Linked DNA regions of Homo sapiens: region 2 is linked to region 1. The links come from fine-mapping of genetic effects on gene expression. A gene starts in region 1. The other region holds a variant in brackets. All regions are shown on one strand. Distances are from middle to middle.

Region 1 (8,737 bases):
GTGCCTGATCATGAGAGAAGTTTTGTGTAAATTTGGAAAATACTACCACTCTTTGATTCTGTAGATCCGGCACCTTGGTCTGGTGTTCTATTGGAGCAGTTTGGGAATCATGACTCTTAAGGAAAGAGAATGTTGACAGTCAAAACTTTGCTTGGATATGCTTTAGAGAATTTCACAGTGATTTGAAAAGAACACTCTCTGTGATGTGCTCTTTAAAACCATTACACAACCATTATTTTGATGTTGTGGATATTACTTTTTCTCGCATCATTTTTCTCAACAAAAGGATAAGGTCAGTAAGTGTATATACGTTTATAAACTAAGGAAGTTAAGTAATGTAAGCACAAACCATCCAAGGAATTTGTTAGTGATGCAATCCTGGCCTCTAAATTGCTCTTGACCAAGGAGCTTCACATATGGGAAGGATCAGAAATTCTATGGCATGGAATCAAAGACACTCTTCCTGCTTCAGGGGCACATATAGATTAGTACTGTCATTGCAGTTTCCTATTAGATGATTCTTAGTGACCAAATCTCTGTCTAGGACCCAGATACCTTATTTACTCAAAATAGTGGACGGAAAATAAACGTTTGATATACATGTATGCATAATATTTTCATCTACATAATTTTTATTTCCCTGAGTGTTTTTTCTTGGGTCATATTTAAAACTCATGCCAGCCCTGTGAAGAAGGTTGTCATTTTTTTTTTCTGATGTACACATGTGGAAAAAGTGACTGGACAGAATCATTCTATTGATAAGTAGCACAGAGTCAGGCATTTTGATTCTTGGGCTTTTGTTCTTCCCCCTGGAAAATGCTTAGTGACTTGATCTGGAATGCCATCCTCTCTTTTCAGGTTTTGACTTGATCTTTAAAATTATGCTCAAAATTCTTCCCCAAGAGGCTGTTTCACCAAAGCCCAGATGGTTTTTGCTGGTTCCAAGACTCCCAAAAACTTGTTTCCAGTATTTTCTATTATATCCAGTATCTATTATTTATCACATTCCAGTATGAACATGGAATATGATTTATTGTATTGACTTACAGAATTTGCTTTATTGTATTTATTTTTTTCTTTTCTTTTTTTTTTTTTCTTTTTTGAAACGGAGTCTCACTCTGTCACCCAGGCTGGAGTGCAGTGGCGCAATCTTGGCTCACTGCAACCTCCGCCTCCCGGGTTCAAGCGATTCTTCTGCCTCAGCCTCCTGAGTAGCTGGGACTACAGGCTCGTACCACCACACCTGGCTAATTTTTTATTTTTAGTAGAGACAGGGTTTCACCATGTTGGCCAGGCTGGTCTCAAACTCCTGACCTCGTGATCACCCACCTCGGCCTCCCAAAGTGCTGGGATTACAGACGTGAGCCACTGCGCCCGGCCTGTACTGATTTTCTTTCTGCTATTTGTCTCCCTTTCTTATTTTATGTAAATTATTATAAATAGTACTACTCCTGACTTACAGACATTTACATTCTGTTTTTAATAACTTCTAGATGACTAGAGAATAGTAGTTCCAAACTTTTGTGTACATAAGAATAACCTAGGGAAGTTATTAAAAATAGACTTCTCAGTGCTCTTCCCATAGGTTCTAGTTCTGTTGGGGGGAGGCGGGGGAGGTCCAGGAATCTGCATTTTCAATAAGCACCCCAGAGGATGCTGATGCAGGTGATCCAGTAACCACGCTTTCAGAAATTCTGCTGTTGAGAACTAAAAATGTGATTGTTATCCTCTGCTCAGTAGGGGAAACAGAGGTGTAAAATAAAATAACTGAGTTCTTGCTCTCTTGGTGTTGACAAACTTTCAGCTGTGAGTGGTGTGGACACTAAATGCAATAGGAATACAAAGAAGGGAGGCATCACTTCTGGCTGGATTGTCAAGCTTCATAAAAGATAGGGGGTTTGAAGAAAAGAAATTTCAAAAAGATGAAAAAAAAATGGGCCGGGCGCGGTGGCTCACGCCTGTAATCCCAGCGCTTTGGGAGGCGGAGGTGGCCGAATCACGAGGTCAGGAGTTCGAGACAAGCCTGGGCAACATGGTGAAACCCCGTCGCTACTAAAAATACAAAAAATTAGCCGGGCGTGGTGGCAGGTGCCTGTAATCCCAGCTACTCGGGAGGCTGAGGCAGGAGAATCGCTTGAACCCGGGAGGCGGAGCATGCAGTGAGCCGAGATTGTGCCACCATTGCACTCCAGCCTGGGTGACAGAGCAAGACTCCGTCTCAAAAAAGAAAAAAAAAAGTGGATTATTTCAAGATGTTGGAACAGCAAAGACTAAGTGTTGAGGATGCATAACTTCTTTTAGGGGATCAGTATGTGGAATGATGTGCCTGAACTAAAAAGAGTTTTTGTGGGCACATGTAGGAATTTACACTTGGAAAGACAGGAGTCAGATCGCAGAGAGTCTTGAATTTGGACTCTATTCTGCAGGTATTGGGTGGTTCCTCAAACACGCAGGTAAGATAAAAGTGATCTTAAAAGATTGATGTGGCAGTGAGTTTGAAAGCCGTGAACTACGTTTGGCGGTCTTTGTACACATTGGGAGAAACGCCAATTGTGAAAGTAGATTTAACATGATCTGGAGCTTGACTATGTGAGAAAGCGAAAAGTGTCAGAAACGCTGCTGAGGTTTGAACCTCCTTGACTGGGAGGATTATGTACAATTTCACCGCCCAGCAAATCTGAAGGAGGAAATGTTTTGAGGATAGTATGTTTGGTTCTAGGTCTAGAATTCAACTTCCTGCCAAATTTGGAATCTTCTGTACATATGCATCAGGTGGCTTCGTTTAAATATACGACAATTACTTTTATTATGTTGAAAGGAAAAGGTCTGGAGCTCGAGGGAGGGGATTACAGATTTGGGTCCATTGGCGCAAAGGGAGGCTGACTGTTCAGATTAATAATTATTAACGGCCACCGTATGGAAAGCACTGCACGAAAAACTAAGATGACCAGTCCTCGTCCTTAAGAAATTCAAAATCTAGACGGAATCTCCAAGAAAGAGATTCCGGTAAGAGTACATGGCAAGCCTCCATATCCACACACCACTGACCAATGAATTTGTACTCTTCTCGTTGGAGTAGTTGAGGGCCTTTGGCTCAAGGAGGGGTGAAAATTAGCAGGATACTAAATTGGGAATGAGAAATCTCTTTTTAGAGGGCGTGGACTTGCAGAACTCTTTGAAGCAGCAGATGCTAGACTGCCCAAACCCCACGCGAGAGTAGCTCTCTGGAGTTGCGGAGTCCGAACCTCCCAAGAGCTACAAATTTATTCCGCAACTACCAATTTTGCGGTTTGGGGCCAGTAAGGCGCCAAGACCCGCCCAGGTGTCCAGACCTCGCAACGATTGGACGAGCTCACCTTCTCGCCTTCCCCGGGCCCCTCGCCCGTCAATCACACTGCTTGCTCGCCACCTGACCTCTGCTGCGCCCCCTTTCAGTGGTGTAACACCTGGCGCTCTTTCGCGCCCCAGCCCTCCGGCGCCCCACCAATCGCTTCAGTTCTTCATTGGCCAGCAGAGAGGTGAGGGAAGGGAAGGGGCGCTCTATTTTGCTCTCTGAACGCACCCTCTCAAGTTTCCCAGTCTTCTCGTAGACGGTCAGGAGAGCAATGACAGCCTGGAGCAGTCGCGCGTGAGCGCAAAAATGCCCGCTGGTGGAGGAGCGCTTCCCCTCCCTCCCAAGCGATTTGCCGCATTTGTTCTGACGCAGGGGCACCCCGCTCGCCGTCTTCACTTACGATTGGCTGTGGCCGAAGCCCGTCACACAGCCCGCCCCACTCCTCTGCCTCAAGAGGCCGCACCTCACGCCGTCGCTGCCGCTTAGCCGTGTGATTGGCTAAGAGGGCTGGCATGCTTTCCCGCCCCCTCCCCCGCCGCCGCACCAAGAGGCGGGCGGGACCCCGCGGAAGTTGTCAGTCAAACTCCTCCTTCCCACCCCTTGCGAGGCCCCTCCCCGGGCCGCGCGCCCTGGCGCGCGCACACGCGCACACACTCCCCAGTCGCCTGTACCAACCACCTTCTCAAGTTGTAGCGGTCGCTCGCCTGGGGTTCTCCGTGGGCGGCCGACGGGCGCGTGGGGGAGGGGGTTCGGGCCGCCCAGCGCGGCAAGGAGCGAGTGTGTGCACGCAGAGGGCCGGGGCTACGGGGCAGCGCCCCGGGCGATGAGGGGCCGGCGTTGACCGGGAAGAGCGGGCACCGCGGCAGTGGCTCCGAGGGGACCCGCGATGGCAGCGCCCTGAGAGGAGGCTCCAGGCAGGGCGGGCTGCGCTGGCAGCGGCCGCTGAGGTGCTGGCCGGCCGGCTGGCTGGCGACGGGGGCAGAAGCGACGAGAGGCGCGCTCGGCACCCGCACCCCCGTGCCCCCGCCTCAGTTGTCTAAACTTCGGGCTCTCTTCCACCCGCTCTGCGCGCCCAGAGTCAACAACTTCTTCACCCCCCTCCGCCCCCGCCCTTCCCTCCGTCAGCCCCGGGAGCTCGCCGCGCGCCGGGGACCAGGAACCTCCAGCGCTGAGATGTGGCCGTGAGGCGTTGGCGGGCGGCGAGGAGAAGCTCGGCGGCGTCCCGGGGCCGGAGGGCCGTGGGGCCGGGGCGCAGGGGCGCGAGCACCCCGCGCCTCTCCCCCGCCTCCTCCTGCCGTCTCCGCCGCTGCCCGTGCCTTGCAAGCAGCAGCCGGAGCTGCCAAGCGTCAGGGCCGCGGAGATGTCGTCGTCGTCGCCGCCGGCGGGGGCTGCCAGCGCCGCCATCTCGGCCTCGGAGAAAGTGGACGGCTTCACCCGGAAATCGGTCCGCAAGGCGCAGAGGCAGAAGCGCTCCCAGGGCTCGTCGCAGTTTCGCAGCCAGGGCAGCCAGGCAGAGCTGCACCCGCTGCCCCAGCTCAAAGGTAACCTCCGAGGGCGCAGCCCCAGCAGCGAGCGCAGGGGCTGGCAACGCTTGCCTCTGCGCCAGCAGAGCCATTTCCTGCTGGGTTTCTCCTGCTCAGTTGGGACTGGTAGTGTGTGAGCCGAGTTCCCCACAATGCCTTGGCGTCACCTCACGCCCTCCTCCTTATTCAAACAGGTTTTCTGTGAAGTCTTGGCTGTTTCCTTCTAATTCCCACCTGAACTCTTTCCATCCTAGGGGAGGCCAACACCCTTCCCCACCTGCGCGCTTGCTTAACCTGCACTTCCTATCTTGCGTCCCGTGAAGTAGAGTCCTTCACTCCTCTTCCAGGTTTGCCCTTTCCCGGTCTTGCTTTAACAACCGCACGAACCTTCCCCGACCTTCACTTTCCCGAGTGTCAGCTCCTCTGTTCGGCCACTTTTAGCTAGTCCTTTACTTTTACAGTTATAAAGCCGTCTGCACCCACCTTCTTCTCAACTTCACTTCCCATTGATTGCCCCTAAGAGTCATCAGACCAGGAATCCGAATGCAAACAACGGTTAAGAGTTAGCTGGCCTTTGGATGTATTTATAAAGAAAAAGCCTAAAATTTGACCAGTGTAGTATCTTATTCACAGGATCGTTAGCTTTAAATGGTATCCTTTAGCTCAAGGAATAGATTTAAAATATTCTGTTGTCTGAGCCGATACACATGGTCTATTTGGAAATACGAAGGAGTAGGTAGTGTTGCTTTGCAGTCGAATGGGAACTTAGTTTGCCAGGCAGTGATTCCAGGGACTTTGTAGGTTTGTACAGGAATTCAAATTGGTATCCGTGCCTAATGCCTTGCAGGAGAACTTGGCACTCTTTTTGGCTCACTTTTCCCACTAGGTTTAGAGGATTTTCGATGTTATTTCCTGGTGTTCTAGTTTATTCTTTGTGTATTACTCATGCTTAATTTTATAATTTTAATGTCCTTGCTTTTTATGAGATAGAAATGTTGGAACAAGATGATAATGCTCCTACATATTTAGATAAAATTTGCAACCTGACGGAAATCCCTATCATCTGATGTTCAGATTTTTCAATTCATTTGAAAAAGCTGCAGCATCCCCTTCAAGGCCAGTCTGGTTCTCATTTGTCTTTGGGCCTGTGAATCCAGCCTTAGTTTGGCAAGGAGTCTAAAGAAAACCCCAGATCAAATCACAGTTGACCTACAACAGCTCCAGAACCCTATTGAGACCCTACCTTGCCCTGACTCTTGGAGTGCTTCTAAATCATGACATCTCACAGTTAGAATCAAACTGGCTTTTGAACAGAGATTTTGAGATATTAGTCTGTGCTATCGAATTTATCATTTGATTGCTCTTTAGCATATAAAAATTGTTAAAATTTACATAGCAAAATGGTAGACTATAATGATAGGCATTGCCAAGACTTTAATTCTTGAATGATGTCATAGCTATAAAAGAATATCGTCTTTGCTATTCATAGATTTTAAAATTTACACTTATTTAAAATATCATAGTTTTTTTATACTACTGATTTTTTTTCTCCCATTAAATTGTCAAACTGTAGTTTGAAGGTTTGGTGCTAGGGTTATTTCATAGTTATTTAATTTGCTTTTTAGTAAGATATTCTAGTTTCTTAGTATTGTACTTCTTAATAGTATACTTTAATAAAAGTAATTGAATATTAAACATTTGGTTGGTTTCAAGCCAGGAGATGCAGCTTTGATAGGTTTTGCTTTTATTTTATTTATTTTATTTTATTTTTTCACTTTCGTTGCTCAGGCTGGAGTGCAATGGCGCGATCTCAGCTCACTGCAACCTCCGCCTCCCGGGTTCAAACAATTCTTCTGCCTCAGCCTCCCAACTAGCTGGGATTACAGGCATGTGTCACCATGGCCGGCTAATTTCGTATTCTTAGTAGAGATGGGGTTTCACCATGTTGGTGAGGCTGGTCTCCAACTCCTGACCTCAGGTGATCAGGCCACCTCAGCCTCCCAAAGTGGTGGGATTACAGGCGTGAGCCACCGCACCTGGCCACATTTTGCTTTTAAAAGCTTGGAAAAATATGCATAGAGTCAGTAATCATCTAAGTTATATGATGTAGGGTTCAACAAGTTGAAGGTGCCATATAGTATTTGGTCACTAGTAAAGAAGAAAGTAAATTGGAACTTTACATTAATTGTAGATATTTGCATGAAAATACAGTATTCATCATAAGGAAAATTATGTATTCAGGATAAATTTATGCAAATTTAATTGAGGAAATAAGACCCTTACTTGGATTACAAACTAATAGGAACAACTTCTTTTACTCCAGATGCCAAAATGCTTGCAAGTGATTTAAAAAAAAAACACCAACATTCAATTGCTTCAATTGGAACTTTGGCAGTGTACTTGATACCACAGTGTTGTGTTTTTTCTGCCAGTGGTAGTTTTTTCCATTTGTGGCCTTCACAAAAACATGGAAAGCCCTTTAGTATGTGTATGAAAGAAAGAATTTTCTTCCTCCTCTGAAATACCATCTTACTGTGGAGTGATTCAGATATCCATGGACTCCAAGATCTTTTAAGTTTCATACCAGCCTGCTTATGTTACTTTGACCACATGCATCTGAACTGGAAAGGTGCCAACTAGTTTTCCTCAAACCATAGTAAGGATTAACAAAATAATCCAGCCTTTTCACCTGTAAGAAGTATTTGTGCAAAATAATTTAGTAAGTGGGTTGTGGGATTTTAATGGCAAAAATGTTCAGAATAAATTGTTTTATAATTGAAAGTATTTAATAAACAACAAGCCTTGTTAAAAGGCTTTTCAGTCTAACCTATTTTGTTTAAGATTCTGGAAGGCTTGGTTTGGTAAAGTAGTTGATGCCTTACATTTATATAACATTTTAGCATTTTAAAATTATTTTACCTTAAAAATTTTCTTAAATTATAAAACAGTATTGTTCATACCAAGTGAAACAATCCAAAGATATGTAACCCTTAATCCCTGTGTATCTCCTGCTTTTTCACACCTAGTAAGTAAGGGTAATACTGTTGTTTGATAATCCATGGCTCATTGTATTTTTACAAACATCCTATTCATTGGGTCATCCCTGAACTTTTTGCAAGGTCAGTATTCCCATTTTATTGATGAGAAAGTTGAGGCCTAAAAAGAATAGTTTCTGGCCTGTGATTACTTATCTGGATGATGTTGCAGCTGACACTGGGACCTAGGTCAAATGATTTCAGTATTTGTGCTGTTAACTGTTTTATGTAAATTTGAAGCAGTGTGATAGAGTTGGGTCTCTGGGGTTAGTCCTGGGTCAAAGGTAAATTTTTAATCTTTCTAAGTCGTTTTCCTTATCTGTAAAATGGGGATAATACAAATCTCCCCAGGCCTGTGGGGATTAAGGGGAATAATTTAAGTGCCTAAAAATAGGCAAAGAATGTTAGTTCCCATTCTCTTAAATATTTGAAAATCCAGATTAAAAATATTTTTAAATGAAGGATTATTAATAGGATTACTTACTTAAATGGTAAACTTTCCTAGTGTATTTAAAGTGATTTTATTTATAATCAGTTTTCAGATATGATTTATGTGATCTGAAGTGCAGCTGCAACATCTTTCAGCACGAGTGTAGAAATGGAAATAGGATTAAGTCAGACTCTTTAAAACATTAAAAGCTGTGATAAGATTTTTTTACCAAGCGAAGAAATCAACCTAACCAGTAGAATTATATAGATGTGCAGTCATCTTAGGAGACAGCCGGGAAATAAATAGCAAGATAGGCTGAAACTGGCTTTGAGATTGAAGTCCCCTTCAGAAGAGGTAAAACTTTCCCAAGTAGCACTCAAGATTCTTTGTTGGTCCATTCTTAGCAACTGTGTCC
Region 2 (8,737 bases), 60 kb before region 1:
TCTAAGATTCAGTATTTTATTTCCTGCCCCAAAACTCAGACACTCCCAGTCTGACTTCTAATCCCTGCTGTTGAAACCCCTGAGATGCTGTTACCTGCTTCGCTCCTCCCCTTCTTTGAAGGGGTTCTCAGGACCTTGAATTTGGTTTGGGCCACCATTGGTTAACAGTGATCGTGTCGTTAAGAAAGACAATGGAGAAGGTGGCTGGGGCACAATGCCAGGACTTTTTATGGCCTTCTCAGGCTGTCCTGGGCCCATGTGTGTCCATCTCTCCAGTAACTAGTCTCTGACCCTGTCCTCATGTCCTTAACACCTGGCCACTCCTTGACTGCACAGCTGCACAGACTTAGATTCCCATCTCACCAACATTCAAGCCCAGGATCTGAAGGATTCCGGTAGGGGAGGCTGCAGGAGCCCTTAGGAATGTCAGTTTGACATTGAAACAAGTTTTTTCCCTCAACTAACAAATTCTTGGCCCTCTGCTAAGGCCTTTGAGGGGGAGTTTGTGGCAGGATGGCCATGGGAGGATAATGCAGAGTCATGGAGATGGAAGGAGGGTCATGGATAAAGACACCAGCTGCTTTCCTTTGGCTGACATCAACCCTGAGGCCATTCTGAAACTGCTTTACTTGGCAGCCTGGAGACACTGCCTAGAATATCACCATCCCAGGCCAGGCATGGTGGCTCATGCCTGTAATCCCAGCACTTTGGGAGGCCGAGGCGGGCAGATCACAAGGTCAGGAGTTTGAGACCAGCCTGACCAACATGGTGAAACCCTATCTCTACTAAAAATACAAAAAAATTAGCCGGGTGTGGTAGCATGCACCTGTGATCCCAGCTACTCAGGAGGCTGAGGCAGGAGAATCGCTTGAACCTGGGAAGTGGAGGTTGCAGTGAGCCAAGATCACACCACTGCACTCCAGCCTGGGCGAAAGAGCGAGATTCTGTCTCAAAAAAAAAAAAAAAGAAAAAAGAAAAAAAAAAGAATACCATCATCCTAGCTGAAGGCCTCCAGGCAACTGGACTCTTCAGATAGCTGGTGATAACAAATGGCAGGTGGAAGCCAAGGGAGAACTTTTCACATATCCTTCAACTTCCCCAATCTCATTTTAGAATTTCTGAAGTAGTGACAATTGGGGGGAAAAAAGTTTCTCCAGGGTCACTTTGGAAGAAGCAATGTATATTAATTTTCTCCTTTATAGCCACTGAATGATGGCAGGTTAGAGAGTGGCAGGTCCTGTTGATGAAGTATTAATATTACTGCAACAGGCTGGTCAACATGGTGAATCCCTGTCTCTGCTAAGAATACAAAAATTAGCCGGGAGTGGTGGCGGGCACCTGTAATCCCAGCTACTTAGGAGGCTGAGGCAGGAGAATCGCTTGAACATGGGTGGCAGAGGTTGCAGTGAGACAAGATCACGCCATTGCACTCCAGCCTGAGTGACAGAGTGAGACTCCGTCTCAAAAATAAATAAATAAATAAATAAAATAAATAAATAAAAATATTACTGCAACAGCAGAGAGCCAGACCCCACAAGGGTGATGGCAAGAAAATTGGTGAGGAATTCGATGCGTAAATCTTGGGTTGCCTCTGAATCCTTTGGCCCTGGGGAGGGAGAGCAGAGCCCACCCTGAGAAGAGGCCAAGCAAGAGGACAGACAATGGGGAAGGAGGCCAGGTCACAGTGCCAGGACGTTTTATCCTATTAGGCCACTGCATTCCTGCAACTTCTGAATATACAACCTAAATCTTTTTTTTTTTTTTCTTGAGACGGAGTCTCACACTGTCACCTGGGCTGGAGTGCAGTGTGTGTGTGTGTGTGTGTGTGTGTGTGTGTGTGTATAGTGTATTTTAGGATGTAGGCTGGGCACAGTGGCTCTTACCTATATTCCTAACACTTTGGGAGGCCAAGGCAAGAGGATCACTTAAGCCCAGGAGTTGAAGACCCGCTTGGGTAACATAGCGACACCTGCCTCTACAAAAAAATTCTTAAAAATTAGCTGGGTGCAGTGCAATGCACCTGTAGTCTCAGATACTGGGAGGCTAAGGTGGGAGGATCGTGTGAGCCCAGGAGCTTGAGGCTGTAGTGAACTGTGATCATGCCACTGCACTCCAGCCTGGGTGACAGAACAAAACCCTGTCTCTAAAAAATTTTTTAAATTATCGAATTTTTAAAATTTTGTCCTATTAAACTATAATATGCCTTAGGGAAGTCACATTTTTTAATTCTCTCCCACCCTTCCATTAGCCCTTGGCTGTTGTTTAGGAGATAATTTTGATTAATTAATTTGTTGACTGACCCTTTAAGATATCAACATCAATTGTTTTAAAATCTTAGTTTATAGAAAAAATGTTAGCCTAAAGACTGACTCCATTTGTCCCTCATACAGAAGCCAAGAGTTTCTGTTAAGATTTAGGTTGTATAGGCCGGGTGCCTATATATCCATATATACATATGTGTGTGTGTGTGTGTGTGTGTGTGTGTGTGTGTGTGTGTATCTATATATATATCTCCAGGAAGAGAGAAATGTAATAATTTATAGGCAATATAGAATACATTGTTCTGTGGTAGCAGAACTCTTTCCTATGGAGTGTTGAGGATGACTTGGAAAAAGCAGAATTTGGCCTTGCTGGTTGGGGGACTTAGATTATGAAGCACCTACTGGGTGCCAGGCACTGGGCTAAGAACTGGGAACACAAAGATGAGCACTTCATGGGCTCTGTCCCCAAGAGAGTGCTCACAGACTAGTGTGGGTGGCAGATCTGTGAACAGAGAACAGAGCAGAGCCCTGAAAAGAGGAGTGATACCTGTGTGGCTGGGGAGGTGAGCAGGGTGTGTGTGGAGAGAGAGAGACACGCAGAGAGAGAGAGAGACAGAGAGAGAGAAAGAAAGAAACTTCTGGAGGGGCTTCACTGAGGAGGTGGCATTTGGGTTATGTTTTCTCTGTGGATTTGGAGGAAGAGCATTTTAGACAAGCGGACAGTGAGTGCAAAGGCACAGGCAGACGCCACACAAGAAAGACAGGCATGCATTCAGAGGAGTCCGTGTGATTGGGAGAAAGGCTGCACACACCGTGTGGTAGCAGACAGTCTGGGAAAACCGGGCAGGAGAAAGGTCATTAGGGCCCGGGTGCCAAATAAAGTGTGCATTTCTTTTTATTTTTCTTTCTTTCTTTTTTTTTTTTTTTTTTTTGAGACAGAGTCTCTCTCTGTCACCCAGGCTGGAGTGCAATGGCACGATCTCAGCTCACTGCAACCTCCGCCACCCAGGTCCAAGCAATTCTCCTGCCTCAGCCTCCCAAGTAGCTGGGATTACAAGTGTGTGCCACCATGCCTGGCTAATTTTTGTACTTTTAGTAGGCACAGGGTTTCACCATGTTGGCCAGGCTGGTCTTCAACTCCTGACTTCAGGTGATCCACCCGCCTTGGCCTCCCAAAGTGCTAGGATTACAGGCATGAACCTCCACATCCGGCCAAAGTGTGCATTTCTATCTTTGGGGAGATCGAGAGCCGGCCACTATTTTTGAGCAGGAGAGGAGTGGGTTCATGTTTACCTTTCAGAAAGATCCCCCAC[TGGGAGAAGGG/T]GGTCTTATTGCTCCAAGAAGCCAGAGAAAGGGAGACCAGTTGTGGGGTGGGTGGGTTGGTTGGGGGTGGAGGCTTTTAGGCAAGGACATGGCAGCAACTGCCAGGATGCCCACAGCTGGGTGGCATGCAAGATGGACTGAAGGCAGGAGTACTATTTGAGGCAAAGGAGACCTTTAGAGAAAATGCCCTGTCAAAGCCATTTATTTTAACAAATACTCTTCCATTGCTCTGTTTTTATTCCCTTCAGATGCATCTTTCCTTCTGGGATTGTGAAAATGGATGTCATTTCTGTAGCTTTCTGAAGTTTCGGTGAAGTTTCCTTTTCCTCTCAGTGGATTCTGTGTAGCAGGAAGCATGAGTTGATTTCAGCTTTTTGTCTTCTGAGACCTACTTCAGAGTGTGTTGCTGCTGGTCCGAGGCTGAAAGGAAGGTCTGTGATGTCATAGGCTGTGATTTTTCTAGAAATGTGTACTGAGATCAGCTGGCACAATTGTGTTTTAAAAACAAAAACATCTCAGGGGCAGTCCCCACATTCTGCATAACGGGACCCTTCACCCCACTGCCTAGATGGTTAATCCCGACAACTCAGAACACCCCACTAACCAAGGTGTTAATGACGTAACTCTCTCCTCACAGGAAAAGCTGCTCTGTAAGAAAAGGGCACTGAAGGAAGTGGCTTTTGTTCTAATGCCGAATTCCGGGGAGGCTGGTGCTTGAAATGTTTACCTCCTCCTGACTTTTTACATGATTTCTCCAGTTCTTGCATTTTATACACCAAAAGCAAAATACAGCTTGACCCTGGACTATTACATGGTGGCTCCGCCAGGCTGGCTGTGGAACTCAGGCTCTGCCATGCAATGGTTGGTTAGTCAGGAGACTGGAGCAGAGAGCAAATAAGGTCGAGGTCATGGTTGAAATTCCTATAGAGGCCAATTGGCTGGGCACATCCTGCCCTCCACTCTCTCTGGCCCTGTTGTACAGGGGACTGAGTAAGAGGGTATAGCTGGCTCAATGCAGCCCAGCACCGCTCTCTTAAATCGCATTGCACATCCTGAATGGCCAGTAAATAATACAGACTTCAGGCACAATGAGACCTTGCTTAAGCAACCCTCTAGAAGAAAGCACCATTATACCTTTCAGCTGTGGTTTTTTTCAGCCTTCATTAGTGATGTGGAACAGCATTGACTGCAGTAACTTTTCTACTAAGCAGAAACATTTGTCTGCTGCTCCAGTCAAAAATACCTGCTTTACAGCTTTAATTCGTCCCACAGAACTGCAGGTCCATAAGGTGAGGCCGTTTCCCTTCCCCACTTCCTCTCTCCATGCCCTTTCCTCACTCACTGATGGCCTCTTCTCCTCTGGTAGCCCCCGAAGCCTTTTTTTCTCCCTATCAGAGCAAGAAAGGCTCTTAGGATGGTTGTTTGCACGCCCAAGTTGACAGACTGCCCTTCATGGCAATGATTCCTGTTACTATTACTTCACCCAGACATTGAATGTCAGGGTTTTTTCTAGAAGGCTGTCAGTAGAAGTTGGCAGTTAAGAGTGGGTAGTTTAGAACCAGATCAAAGCCAGGCTGGGATCTGGCCCTGACAGTTACTATCTGCGTGCCTTGGGATAAGAACTTAACCTTGCCAAGCCTCGGTTTTCCTCTCTGTAAAGAAAAGCTCATACTGAAATTATTGCATGCCAGCTCTCAGCATTGCCTGTCACATGACAAATGTTAGTTATGATTATTTGTTAGCTAATTGACACACAGAAGGCTTTATTCTACTAAAGGCCTACAGCTAGCAAGTGGAGATAATTTTTTATTCAAATTTTTTATTATAAAAAATTTCAAATGCATAGAAAAGGTGAAATAATAGTACAGTTGACACTGAAATCCCTCTTCTAGATTCTACAGTTGTATACATTTTACCAAATATATGTTTTTTCCTAAACTATTTCAATGTAAGATACAGACATCATCCCTAAATACTTCAGCACACATCTCTTTAAAATAAGGACATCCTCTGACATACTCACAGTAACCTTTTTTACACTTAAGAAAATTAATGATAATTACCTAATATCCCCTGGTTCCCAATTCCCAAATCATATAACATTTTCCAAAATGTTTCCCAATATGTCTTCTAACAGATGTTTGTGTGTGTGTGTGTTTTAAAAAATTTCAGTAGCTTTTGGGGTACAAATGTTTTTGGTTACGTGGATGAACCGCAGAGTGGTGACGTCTGACATTTTCATGCACCCATCACCCAAGTAGTGTACATTGTACCCAATATGTAGTTTTTTATCCCATACCCCTCTCTCATCCTCCCTCTTCTGATTCTCCAAAGTCAATGGACTTTGGATGTTTTTTTTTCAAACAAGATCCAATCAAAACTCTTACATTGCATTTGGTTGTCATGTCTCTATTTTCTTTTATTCTAGAGCGGTAGGTGTGGGGAAATTTTGAGAACAATATTGTTGCTGAAATCAACTATTGGCTGCCAGGTGGAAATGGCTGCTGCCTCCACTGAGGCACACTGGGCCCCGCCACATTTATTAGCACAAGCCCTGTGATATGGTTGCATAGCTTGCTTTGCTGAACTTGTTGGTTACTAGCTACTGCTTAATGACTGGACATTAGAGACTCTTCTGTTGTTTTTATATTCCCACCACCTCCACAGCACCTAACACACAGGTGGTCAGTAAAAGTGGATGGAAGGAAAGGAGGCAGGGAGGAAGAAGGAAGAAAAAGGAGAGTGGGAAAGAGGCAGGCACGGGCAGGCCCCCCTGCCTCCATGCCAGGTGGGTACCTGGAGAGTGACACTGTGCCCTCCTGGGAAGCACCCACACTCCTTTGATTGGGGGAAAACGATTCCATGTGGCATGTGCCTTTTGTCCAAATATGCCTTCTTCCTTCGCATTCTCCTTTCCCTCTTTCCCATCCTCCTTACCTGAGCACTAGTTGGGATCCCTCAGACCTTCTGCTATCTTTAACTTAGTCTTTCCCTCTCTTCCCATATACAAGATTAACATTTGACATTATTTTAAAAATAATCTGTAATAGATTATCTTTTCCTACAATCACACTCATTTTCCCAATTCCCTGGGAGATAATTCCCACAAAATTTGTGGTCAGTAATTAAATTCCTGACCACAATGAATCATGAGGAATATATACTGTGTTCAGAGGGATGGCGTGGTATCCGTAAGGGAGCATCTGCTGAAGGGAGAGAGAGGACACATGGGGGTTAGCCCACAAAGCCAAGGGGAGCTGTCCTCCAAACACAACCAACAGAGTTTAGCTCAGGCTTCAGGATCAAACTATTGCTTCTATTCTGTGTGGAGAGAACAATGACTGAATTGGCTGGAATAGAACAAAGTTGTTAAAGTGAACTTTCTCCACACCTCATCTCTAATCCCTAAAATTTTGACTTAAACAAAATTTTGAGTTAAGCAAATTTGAATTAAAAATTTTGAGCAGATACAGGGAATGAATGCAAGAAGCTCTTGATTATCTTCATGGTGGACTGGCTCATTTTCATTCCGGGCTGACCTCGTTGATATGTTCTCTACCACTTCTCCTTGCTGAGAAGTAGTTGGCGTCTATTCAAAGTACACAGGCCATTTAATTATTAATCGGAGCAAAACATTATTAGGGAAGTTAAACTGTTGAGTAGGTGTGTGTGTGTAAACATGTGGATACTTTCTTGATTATCTAGCTGTTTTGTTTTGCCTTTTGCCTTTCTGGGTTCCTGCCCCTCTCCATTTGTGGTGATACCTGTAAGGTGATTATGCCACTGAATTCCTAAGAGCTTTTTGGTCCCTCTCTCATTCTCCTTGGATGTGTGTGGAAATGTTTGTCAGCAGGGGCGGACCGGGGAGGGTTCATGTACACAAGAAGTGACTGACCTTGGCCGCTGAGTGGAGTGTGTATTTGTGACGAGGAAAGGGTTCAGTGTTTGTGTTTGGTGATGGTTTTATGTCCTGCTGTCATTAGAGAGGACTTTATAGGGGTTTCTGATGACCTAGGGCTCCAGGAATCATCATGATTATTTAGACAATGATTTTAATGGGCCCATATAAACTTATTCTGTTTTTATACTAGTAACAGAGAAGAAGATGTTGGAAGATTAAATATAGAGAAGGATGGGCTTTAGCGTCACTGTTCAGGGACATTGGGAATTATTCTACAGAATTCGATCCAGCCTATTCTCATTATTTCCTTCTTCTTATGACTTTCATTCTTTCCTTACCTTCCTCCTTTTCCCTTTCTTCTTCTTCTTTTTTTTTTTTTTGAAACGGAGTCTCTCTCTGCCGCCCAGGCTGGAGTGCAGTGGTGCAATCTCAGCTCACTGCAAGCTCTGCCTCCCAGGTTCACGGCATTCTCCTGCCTCAGCCTCCCAACTGGCTGGGACTACAGGCGCCCGCCACCATGTCCAGCTATTTTTTTGTATTTTTAGTAGAGACAGGGTTTCACTGCCTTAGCCAGGATGGTCTCGATCTCCTGACCTTGTGATCCACCTATCTCGGCCTCCCAAAGTGCTGGGATTACAGGCGTGAGCCACTGCGCCCGCCCTCTTCTTTTTTTCTTCCTTGCTTTCTTTCTTTTCCCTCCTCCCTTCCTCTCCCCACCTTTATTTATTTCTTTCAACATGTACTGCCTGCTTACTATATATTAGTCACAGTCTAAATGCTGGAGATGCAGAGATGAATAACACATGGCCCCAGCCCTCCTGGAACTCAGTTTAGCGTGGGAGGCAGATGGAGGCACAGATCATTCCAGTACAGTGGTTAACGATAGAGATAAGTACAGGGTGAGCTCAATGTAGGGGTCCCTAATCCAGCTTGGCTTGGGAGAGAAGGCAGGAAGCTTCCTGGAAGAGATGATGGCAGATTGATTGGGAGTGGCTGAAAAAGGAGCAGGGCTCAAGGCCTTTACCTGGCAGGCCAGGTCATTCACATGGTTTATGAGCACTGGATAAAGGGAATGGGATGAAGGGCTTTGGGGGTATGGGTCTTCCATGAGATATGACACCAGATTTTGATGTCACTGCATATGGTTAGGACCACAGGGGCAGGGCAGAAATGATGTCTACTACTGTGGGACAGTACTAGTGACTTACCTCTGAAATCTGGGGACATTCCAAGGTATCTGCTCAGATGGTTG

What was found.
Region 2: its variant is fine-mapped to the expression of PPP2R5A in lung (TOPMed, PIP above 0.99).

Annotation. Positions count from the first base shown.
Region 1 is chr1:212,281,417-212,290,153 of GRCh38, forward strand. It overlaps PPP2R5A (protein phosphatase 2 regulatory subunit B'alpha), which reads left to right and starts at 3,994. Exons shown (of 13, transcript NM_006243.4): 1 at 3,994-4,875. The coding sequence starts at 4,695. LINC02608 (long intergenic non-protein coding RNA 2608) reads right to left here and starts at 3,605. Exons shown (of 4, transcript NR_125984.1): 1 at 3,563-3,605. RefSeq lists enhancers at 71-240, 3,507-3,586 and a silencer at 3,757-4,726.
Region 2 is chr1:212,221,510-212,230,246 of GRCh38, forward strand. It overlaps LINC02608 (long intergenic non-protein coding RNA 2608), which reads right to left. Exons shown (of 4, transcript NR_125984.1): 3 at 8,694-8,737; 4 at 3,769-4,004. Among named protein-coding and RNA genes, the nearest start is that of LINC02608, 59 kb to the right of the region's middle. The variant TGGGAGAAGGG/T (reference allele first, on the strand shown) is at 3,575.